Homo sapiens: one gene and its partners. The protein of the gene in region 3 purifies or fractionates together with the protein of the main gene of each other region. This does not show direct contact. Each region holds a gene or a part of one and is shown on either strand. Other genes may lie near its edges. The genes, in order: MAPKAPK5, CHAC2 and ZNF577.

What was found.
Region 1: the proteins of ZNF577 (region 3) and MAPKAPK5 purify together in Homo sapiens (affinity purification with mass spectrometry; one large-scale study listed by BioGRID and IntAct). This does not show direct contact.
Region 2: the proteins of ZNF577 (region 3) and CHAC2 purify together in Homo sapiens (affinity purification with mass spectrometry; one large-scale study listed by BioGRID and IntAct). This does not show direct contact.

What each region holds. Positions count from the first base shown.
Region 1 is NC_000012.12:111,848,645-111,852,298, forward strand, and holds part of MAPKAPK5 (MAP kinase-activated protein kinase 5), read left to right. Parts: intron 1-3,654. UniProt on the Homo sapiens protein: Tumor suppressor serine/threonine-protein kinase involved in mTORC1 signaling and post-transcriptional regulation. Phosphorylates FOXO3, ERK3/MAPK6, ERK4/MAPK4, HSP27/HSPB1, p53/TP53 and RHEB.
Region 2 is NC_000002.12:53,770,667-53,773,266, forward strand, and holds part of CHAC2 (glutathione-specific gamma-glutamylcyclotransferase 2), read left to right. Parts: intron 1-1,240; coding exon 1,241-1,276; exon of another isoform or gene 1,277-1,278; coding exon of another isoform or gene 1,279-1,281; intron 1,282-2,600. UniProt on the Homo sapiens protein: Catalyzes the cleavage of glutathione into 5-oxo-L-proline and a Cys-Gly dipeptide. Acts specifically on glutathione, but not on other gamma-glutamyl peptides.
Region 3 is NC_000019.10:51,884,998-51,889,274, forward strand, and holds the start of ZNF577 (zinc finger protein 577), read right to left. Parts: upstream 2,955-4,277; 5' UTR 1,824-2,954; intron 1-1,823. UniProt on the Homo sapiens protein: May be involved in transcriptional regulation.

The DNA of each region.
Region 1 (3,654 bases), on a different chromosome or scaffold from region 3:
TCAGGTGATTGCCCACCTTGGCCTCCAAAATGCTAGGATTATAGGCATGAGCCACTGTGCTCGGCCTCTTTTTGCCCGTTTTAGAATTGCTTTTTTTTGTTTTGAGATGGAGTCTCGCTTTGTCACTCAGGCTGGAATGCAGTGGTACGACCTTGGCTCACTGCAACCTCTTCCTCCGGGGTTCAAGCGATTCTCCTGCCTCAGCCTCCTAAGTAGCTGGGATTACAGGCATGCGCCACCATGCCCAGCTAATTTTTTGTATTTGTATTTTTATTTTTTTATTTATTTTTTGTATTTTTAGTAGAGATGAGGTCTTCACCATGTTGACCAGGTGGTCTCGTACTTCTGACCTCAAGTGATCCGCCTGCCTTGGCCTCCCAAAGTGCTGGGATTACAGATGTGAACCACCATGCCCAGCCTAAAATTGATTTCTTTGCCTTATTGAGTTATAGGATTATTTATTTATTTTTTTATTAATTTTTTTAGAGATGGGGTCTCACAATGTTGCCCAGGCTGGTCTTGAACTCCTGGGCTCAAGCGATCTGCCTGCCTCAGCCTCCTGAAGTGCTAGGATTACTGCACCTGGCCAAGAGTTCTTTTTTTTTTCTTTCTTTTTTTTTTTTCTGAGACAAAGTCTTGCTGCTCTTGTTGCCTAGGCTGGAGTGCAATGGCACGATCTTGGCTCACTGCAACCTCCACCTCCCGGGTTCAAGTGATTCTCCTGCCTCAGCCTCCCAAGTAGCTGGGATTATGGGCATCCACCACCATGCCTAGCTAATTTTTGTATTTTTAGTAGAGACTAAAAATTTTAGTTTTGCCATGTTGGCCAGGCTTGTCTTAAACTCCTGACCTTGTGATCTGCCTGCCTCGGCCTCCCAAAGTGCTGGGATTGCAGGCGTCAGCCACCGCACCTGGCCTAGAGTTCTTTATAAACTGAATAAAAGTCATTTATCAGCTATGTGATTGGCAAATATTTTCTCCCAGTCTGTGGCTTATCTTTTCATTTTATAATGGTGTCTTTTGAAGAGCAAAAGGTTTTAAATTTTATGAAGTCCAGTTTAGCACATTTTTTTCTTTTTCTTTTATTTTGTTAGGACAGTCTCACTCCATCACCCAGGCTGGAGTGTAGTGATGCGATCACAGTTCGCTGCAGCCATGTCCTTCTAGGCTTAAGTGATTCTCCCTCCTCAGCCTCCTGAGTAGCTGGGACCACAGGTGTCTACCACCATGTTTGGCTAATTAAAATAACTTTTTTTTTTGTAGAGACACGGGTCCCACTGTGTAGCCCAGGCTGGTCTCCAGCTCTTGAGCTCAAGCAGTCGTCACACTTTGGCCTTCCAAAGTGCTAGAATTATAGGCATGAACCACCACGACTGGTTGTGAAATATCCTTTTTTTTTTCATAGATGGAGACTTGCTCTGTTGACCAGGCTGGAGTGTAGTGGCGTGATCTTGGCTCACTGCAACCTCTGCCTCCCAGGTTCAAGCAGTTCTCCTGCCTTAGCCTCCCAAGTAGCTGGGATTACAGGTGGGTGCCACCATGCCCGCCTAATTTTTGTCTTTTTAATAGAGACGGGGTTTCACCATGTTGGCCAGGCTGGTCTCGAACTCCTGACCTTGTGATCTGCCTGCATCGGCCTCCCAAAGTGCTGGGATTACAGGCATGAGCAACTGTGCCTGGCCAAAATACCTTTTTATTTCATATTGAAGATGCAGCTTTTACGTGGGTGCGAGAGTGCTATAAGAAAGGCATAACTATAGACTCTAATATTTTTCGAGAAAAAGTCATTGTGTCTTAAAAGGAAGGTAAAGGATCTAAAGTTGGAGAATTTAATGCCAGCAAAGGATGGTTTGATAACTGTAGAGAGGTTTGGCTTAAAAAAATGTCAGGGTAACAGGAGAAGCAGCTTCTGCTGACCAAGAGGCGGCAAACAAGTTCCCAGATGCCATTAAGAAAATCATTGAGGAGAAAGGATATCTGCTTGAATGGGTTTTTAATGCAGACAAAAATGCCCTGTTCTGGGGAAAACAATGCCACAAAGGACATTTATGAGTAAGGAAGAGCAGTGAGTGCCAGGATTTAAGGCAGGAAGAGCTAGGTTAACTGCCGTTTTGTGTAAACACAGTCAAGTTTATGATCAGGACTACCCTGGTCTATAAAGCTGCTAACCTCTGAGCCTTCAAGGGAGAAGATAAAACACCAGCTGCCAGTCTGTTTTTACCAAAAGAAAGCCTGGATAATGAGAACCCATTTTCTTTTTTTTTTTTTTTTTTGAGAGGAGTCTCGCTCTGTGGCCCAGGCTGGAGTGCAGTGGCACGATCGCGGCTCACTGCAAGCTCTGCCTCCTGGGTTCACACCATTCTCCTGCCTCAGCCTCCCGAGTAGCTGGGATTATAGTTGCCTGCCACCACGCCCAGCTAATTTTTGTATTTTAGTAGAGACAGGGTTTCAGCATGTTGGCCAGGCTGGTCTTGAACTCCTAACCTCAAGTGATCCGCCTGCCTCGGCCTCCCAAAGTGCTGGGATTACAGGCATGAGCCACCGTGCCCGGCCAGGACTGCCTTTTAAAGTTTTTTTGACACAATGCCCCTGGCCACTGAGAATCCCATGAGTTCAACACTAGGCTTTGAAGTGGTCTACTTGTCCACAAACAGTGTCTCTAATCCAGCCTGTAGATCAGGAGGTCTCAAGGACTTTTTGAGAAAGAGTCTGGCTCTGTTGTCCAGGTTGGAGTGCAGTGGGGTGATCTCAGCTCACTTCAACCTCTGCCTCCCAGGTTCAAGCAATTCTCATGCCTCAGCCTCTCGAGAAGCTGGAATTACAGGCATGCTCCACAATGCCTGGCTAATTTTTGTATTTTTAGGAGAGATGAGGTTTCACCATTTTGCCCAGGTTGGTCTCGAACTCCTGGCCTCAAGTGATCTGCCTGCCTCAGCCTCCCAAAGTGCTGGGATTACAGGCTTCAGCTGCCGCACCTGGTCCAGGACTTTCAAGACTCATTACATGGGATACTCTGGAAAAGATTGTTAACACCAAGGAAGAGAATCCTGATAGAATGTAGTGAAAGTCTAGAGGGATTACACCACTGAAGATGCCATTGTTATGGAAAAAGCTGTGGAAGCCATCAGGCCTGAAACAATAAATTCCTGGTGGAGAAAACTCTGTCCAGATGTGCGTGACTTCATAGGATTTATGACAGAGCTGGTTAAGGAAATCATGAAAGAGATTGTGGATATGGCAAAAAAGGTGAAGGGTGAAGAGTTTTAAGGTACAGATCTTGGAGAAATTCAAGAGCTAATAGACACCACACCTGAGGAATTAATAGAAGATGACTTGATGGAGATGAGTGCTTCTGTGCCAGACAGTAAGGAATAAGATGTACAAGAAACAGGGGCAGGAAAAAATTGACATTAGACAATTTGCCAGAAGGGTTCCAATTATTCAAGACTTCCTTTAGCTTTGTTTATGGAATATGGAATGGAACCTTCTGTGATACTGGCACTGAAGTGAAAGCAAATGGTGGAAGAAGGATTAGTATTGTATAGAAATGTTTTTAGAGAAATGGAAAAGCAAAAAAGTCAGACAGAAATGAGGATGTATTTTTGTAATGTTACACCAGATGTGCCTGCCTCTCCTGCCTTCCTTTCCATGCCC
Region 2 (2,600 bases), on a different chromosome or scaffold from region 3:
CTTCATAATATATCATTTCAACCTCAAGTTGAATAGTAAAAAGTGAAGCTTTCCATAATATTGTTAACTGACCTGTGTTAAAACCAAAATGGGAAAATAAAATTGCCTAGAACACAAGTGGTCTGATTGTCCCATATAAGAACTACACGAATAGGCCAGTTCTAATACTGACCTTTAAATAGGGCAAAGTAAAGTTCATTTATGAATGTAAAAGAAATGCCTACCTTGAAGCACCATTACCATATACAGAAAGGTAAGAACACTTCATAACTCAGAAGTGTAAATCACTCATTCTCTCTCACTTAAAACCTCTTAATATCCCCTGGTAGCAGTGGTTCTTAAAGTATGAGCCCCAGAACAATTTCTGAAATCAGCAGGAAAGTTGTTACAAATGCAAATTCTTAGACAGCTCCAGACCTACAGAATCAAAAACTCTGGAGGTGTGGCCTAACAATGTCTTTGTCAAGCCCTCTAGGTCATTTTGATCCACTAAATTTGAAAGTCACTTCCCTATATATAGGAAAGCACCCTTTATGTCATATTTTTTTTCCCCTAATAAAACTATAGGCCGGGTGCGGTGGCTCACGCCTGTAATCCCAGCACTTTGGGAGGCCGAGACGGGTGGATTACCTAAGGTCAGGAGTTCCATACCAGCCTGGCCAACATGGTAAACCCGTCTCTACTAAAAATACAAAAATTAGCTGGGTGTCTTGGCGGGCACCTGTAATCCCAACTACTCAGGAGGCTGAGGTGAGAGAATTGCTTGAGCCCGAGAGTTGGAGGTTGCAGTGAGCCAAGATCGCACCACTGCACTCCAGCCTGGGCTTGTTGAGCAAAACTCCGTCTCAAAAAATAAATAAATAAATAAATAAAACTATAACATTCTTTTTTCCTTAAGGGAAAAACCAGAATATTTATAATTACTGCTTCCATTTGCCTTTCATTTTAGATGACCTTTAGTTACTGGTATGTTTTCCAATATATCCATGTAAAGTGAATATAATATACCTAATACGTATAAATTGATGGAAATCTTTTAGAAAGGCCAACACAGTCTCTAGATAAGGTAGGTTCTCTTAATTCACTTAAGCTTTATCATAAAAAATAACTATGCTTAAGAAATAGTGCTTCTTATGAGCAAATATAATTCAAATATTCCATGTCAAAAATGTTGCTAATGCTCAGCTACTTAATGAACTTTATTAATTCAGAAAAATTTTTTTTTACCTTTTTAAAACAGCCTGGAAGAGTTGTGACTCTTGTTGAAGATCCTGCGGTATGGTATAAATATTCTTTTTTGTATAATTTTAATTTTATAAAATGTTGCGATGTTTCTGTTTCAATTTGATTAACAATCATCACAGACAATTTGAACTACCCTAAATTTAGAATTCTTCTCTGTATTTGTGGGTTTTTTTTGTGTTTGTGAAAACTGAGGCCAATAAGAAAAGTTAGAATGCAGAGTGCAAGGTAGACAACAACGTACAGACAAATAGCATGTAGTTTTCGTTTTTGTGGGGTTTTTTGAGACAGAGTCTAGCTCTGTCGCCCAGGCTGGAGTGCAGTGGCGCGATCTCGGCTCACTGCAAGCTCCGCCTCCCGGGTTCACGCCATTCTCCTGCCTCAGCCTCCCAAGTAGCTGGGACTACAGGCGCCCGCCACCATGTCTGGCTAATTTTTTGTATTTTTAGTAGAGACGAGGTTTCACCGTGTTAGCCAGGATGGTCTCAATCTCCCGACCTCGTGATCCGCCCGCCTTGGCCTCCCAAAGTGCTGGGATTACAGGCATGAGCCACCGCGCCCAGCCGTGGGATTTTTTTAAAAACAAGTTTATTAACTAAGAATTTTGTGGTCCCCTTTGACATTAACGGAAATACCTGCCCCCGACAGCCAGACTACCACCGAGAATTAAATGGAACCCTTAAAAGCTCTCTTCACTTTTGCTACCAGTCTCATTTTCAGCAGAAATCTAAGTGAGGAATTCTTATTTTCTTTATTGCTTAATTGTATCAATAGCACCTGTGTGTTGTGTTTTGTGTTTTTGTTTTTAAGTTCAGGAGTACATGTGCAGGATGTGCAAGTTTGTTACATAGGTAAACATGTGTCATGGGGGTTTGTTGTACAGATTATTTCATCACCCAGGTATTAACATTAAGCCTAGTATCAATTAGTTATTTTTCTAGATCCTCTCCCTCCTCCCACCCTCCACCCTCCCGTAGACCCCAGTAGAACCTGTGATTTTAAAACTGGTTTGGAGCACCAGAAAGTTTTATTTAACCAACAATCCTCAGTTTCTTAAATATTTTCAGTCATTTTATTGGGGTACAGATTCAGAATTTTATATTGTGAAATTAAATGTTTAACTTTGGAAAGGACTTTAATAAACAAAAATCAAGCAGTTAGTAATGGCAGATAAATAATGGTGTGGATTAGGAAATGCTTTCATAATTGATACTACGAAAAGCATTTATAAAAAAGATCTTCAAATTGGTAACTTATAACTCCTAATTAAACAGTTAATAAACAAATGGCACTTTGTTTCTAGAATTTTTTAATGACCAAGTGAAAGGCTCATATTTTTCATTTCAGTCCCGTTATTA
Region 3 (4,277 bases):
TGGTTTTAATCATTTGAAATGTATTTAGACTTGCCTGATGGCCAACCATACGGTGACTTTTTATAAATGTCCTATGTGCATCTGAGGAAAATTATTGAGTGCAGTGTTTTATATTGGTCAAGTTTGTTAATTAGGTATGTCATTCTAACCTTTCAGGGGTTGGGACTATTGTGGGTTAGCTGAATGTTTTTGTAAATAATGTTTTATCAGAACACAGCCACACCCATTTGTTTACACATTCTGTACAGCTACTTTCATTCTATAATTGCAGAACCTAGTAGATGCAGACAAGACCATTTAGCCGGCAGAGACTAAAATATTTGTCATCTGTCTGCACCTTTACAGAAAGTTTGCCAGCAATGGTTAATCTATACCCTTTTAGCTTTTTGTCTGCCTGTTCTCTCAGTTACTGAGAGAAGTATGTTAAGAATTTCCCATTATGATTGGGCATTTGCGGTTTCTCCTTGTGTCTAGCATACTCCATTCCTCTATACTTAACACACTAAGTATATGCTCTATTGACTTTTTTTTGAGATGGAGTTTCATTCTTGTTGCCTAGGCTGGAGTGCAATGGCATGATCCCAGCTCACTGCAACTTCTGTCTCCTGGGTTCAAGTGATTCTCCTGTCTCATCCTCCTGAGTAGCTGGGATTACAGACACCCGCTACCACGCCCTGCTAATTTTTGTATTTAGTAGGGATGGGGTTTCATCATGTTGGCCAGATGTCTCGAACTCCTGATCTCAGGTGATCTATCCGCCTCAGCCTCCCAAAGTGCTGGGATTACAGGCGTGAGCTCTCATGCCCAGCCCTCAATAGAACTTTTATGCACCAAAAGACATGTAGAAAAACGTTCATATCAACAATACTCATAACTCCCATAAGCCATAACAATGTCTCTTGATAGTGGAATGGATAATATGGGGTATAATCATCAATGGAATACTACACAGTAATGAAAAAGAAACGAGCTACTGCTATATGCAGCAACTTAGATGATTTTCACAACAAAAATATTAAGCAAAAGAAGCCAGCCACAAAAGAATGTGTACCTTAGGATTTCATTTATATAAAGATGACAACCAAGCACATCTATGATGTTTTTAAGATAATAATTACCTTTGGAGAGGAGAGAGAAGATGAGGGCTTCTGGGATGCTACATTATTCTATTTTTTTAACCTGGTGATTTTCAAGTATAATCACTTGAAAAAAACTTAAGAGACCAATTTCTCTTATAAATGTATAGGCAAAAAAATTTTTTAACTTTCTACTATGAAAAATTTCAAGCAAAAGAACAGTATACTCAAATTCCACATATTCATCATGTGACTTCAAGAATGACGAACTCACATCTAATTTTGTTTTATCTATACCACCATTCAGTCCCTCTCCAGCAATGGATTATGGATTATTCCGAAGCTAATCCAAGATATCTTTTCATTTTTTGATGCAAAAATATTAAATAAAATTTTAGCAAATAAAATCCAGTCTCATATTAAAAGAACAAACCATTATTGACAAGTATGGTTTATTCCCTCAGGAATACATGAAATTGGGAAATAGAGCAACACAAATCAAAGAAAATTTTAAAGAGAAAAAAATAAATGAAAATAATTGTAATGGTCAAAAGCCCTTAGGAAAGAGAAATAAAAACTTGATAAATCACAGTAATTATTTATTCAGACCATACTACGTACCTAGTACTACACTTTGAACATACTTAAAGAACATTTGCTCACTTAATCTTCATAATGATTCCATGAAAAAGAAACTATGACAGCTTTTTTCCACAAATAAGGAAACTGACTCAGAGATTAACGTACCCAAGTCAGAGGCAGAGGCAGGTACTTCTTACTCCACAGTCCATACACTTGCCACCTGGCTAAAATTATTTGCAGATGACAAAAATGCTCAACTAGAAAAAAGACGTCAATTTATAAGTTATATGTAATGACATGAGTACAATGAAGTGACAGAATAAACATATATATTTTTAACTTCTGTTCTTGTCAACTAAGTAAAATTAGGAACAAAAAAGGAAAGGGGGAGGGGTCTTATGCAAAAAAAAAGTCACGATTTACAACAAAAAGTATTAACTATGTAGAAATAAGCATAACCAGAAATGTCCAAGATACGTATGGAAAAACACTACAGATAGTCAAACAAATAAAAATATTGGGTTAATAGAAATCCATCACATGTTCCTGAAAGTGTTGTATCTAGATCTACATCAATTCTACCCAAATTAAAGCAACCACTTGATGAAACTGCAGCAATTTAAAAAACTCTCAAAGAGCATGTAATATGGGAATACGAAGTTGACAAGATGTTATTAAAGACGAATAAAATTATACCAATACCTAGACACCTGATCCCAACATTAAACATGAAATACACTAAACCAGAGTTATTTTCTGGAGGAGTATTTAAAATGATGGGGATGTTATTACTTGGGTCGCAATGAACCTGAAAACCCATTTTCTACAGAATATACAGCAGCAGGGAAGCAAGGGGACCAGCAGACCCCTTTTTAAGTACGCATGTGATAAGCAATGAACACGAACTGCCCAGAGCAGTCTCCAACACTGACACGATTCGCTTCCCCACCACGACGCCCTAGCGCTACTGTGCAACGAAGACCTCCCAAGCACTGGTTCCAATGCGGAGACCATGGGCTCCCAGACTCTGGGAACTCCAACACGACTGCGAAACGAACTCCGAGCGAGGACTCCCCGAGAGCTCCCCGCAACACGGACCTCACGCGCTAGCGAACAACAGAAAAAAAAAAGCGCGCTCTCCCTGCCCCTGAAACATTCCCAGAAGCCCACGCAGACCAGACCGATGACCTGTCTCCACTGCTGGAGGCGAGTCAGGGACCCGAAGTCTCTAAACACTCGCCTCTACCCGCCGCCCCGCGAACCCCACACACTGCAGACGCGACACTCGCAAGTTTCGGGGATGGCGGCCGGCGAGGGCCATACTGCGTCTTTCCGGAGACACGGAATACGGCACCAGCCGTCCCTTTATGATGCAATATGTCTGCGCCCAGGGGACGCTTGCTGGGAGCAGCCATTTTCAACCCTACTGCCGTAGAGCAGGCGGAGTCCCTCTTTTCGCGCCTTAAGACAGGTAGGTTCTGACGATGAAAAGCAATTGAAAACGACCCATTTCACCCTTTTTCCAGTCCACGTGAACTGCTAGATCTTGGCTTTGCAACATTAGCCAGGGGCGCTACATAAACTGCTTAGTTTCTCAAAGGCTCAAGCCTGCCCTGATCTGTCTACAGGATGGGTAGAGATGGTCACAGACATTTAGGCACTTTGATCCTAAGAAGAATGGAAAGAAACCATGTGGCGCGGCAGTCTTACAGGAATTTCAAGAGGGAGGGACCTGAGCAACAATCGGAGGGGTTATTACTCCTGAGGATGCATCTGGCTGGAGAAAGCAGCCTTTGAGAACTGCCTAAGAAGTATCTTTACATCTACATCAGATGTAGCCTCAGAGGAAGGAGTCAGTCATAGAATGGATAAAACAACCGCGTGTTAAAGCTTTGGTTATAATTGGTGTGGAGAATGGAGAACACAGTTGATCAGCAGTTGACAAAGTGGGGAACCAACACGAAAACAGGGCTCTCTCACCCTGGAAAAGCCAAAGGCAGAACAAGCCTTTACATCCAGGAAGGTGGGAGCAACTTGAAATCAAAACTCTGAAGGGGAGATGATTCTGTTCAATACTGAAACTCAGCTGATCAATTAACTGATGAATTCTAGCACCAAACCTGCTCCCTATAATTTTATAACCAGCCTCAGAGAACCTTTAAAGGGATTGATCATTCACTCATTTATCCAGCGAATGTTTATAAAATGCCTAATGTGTCAAACACTGTTGTGCGTGCTGGGAATACAACAGTTGGAAATTCAGGCACAAAGACTCTCATTCATGGAGATTACATTCTACTGGCAATTTCAGTGTGTGAGCTAAATTGAGTGGTGCTAACTGTTGACTTGGCTGGTTGACTGAAACTTGGACTCAAAATTTGCCTACACTAAATGAAGTTTAAATGCCAGAAATTTCCTCATATATTATAAAGTACCCAAAGATAAATGGAGTTTGGAATGCTAGAATGAATTTATCATGTAAAATCAAGATTACCCATACCTCAAATATGTATTCCAGTAGCATCTAGAAGACAATCTCTTCACTGACACTGATCTGGTCACAGGAAATAGAGATATACTACTGTAAGATTATTTTATTATACAGTAAGTGATATAATG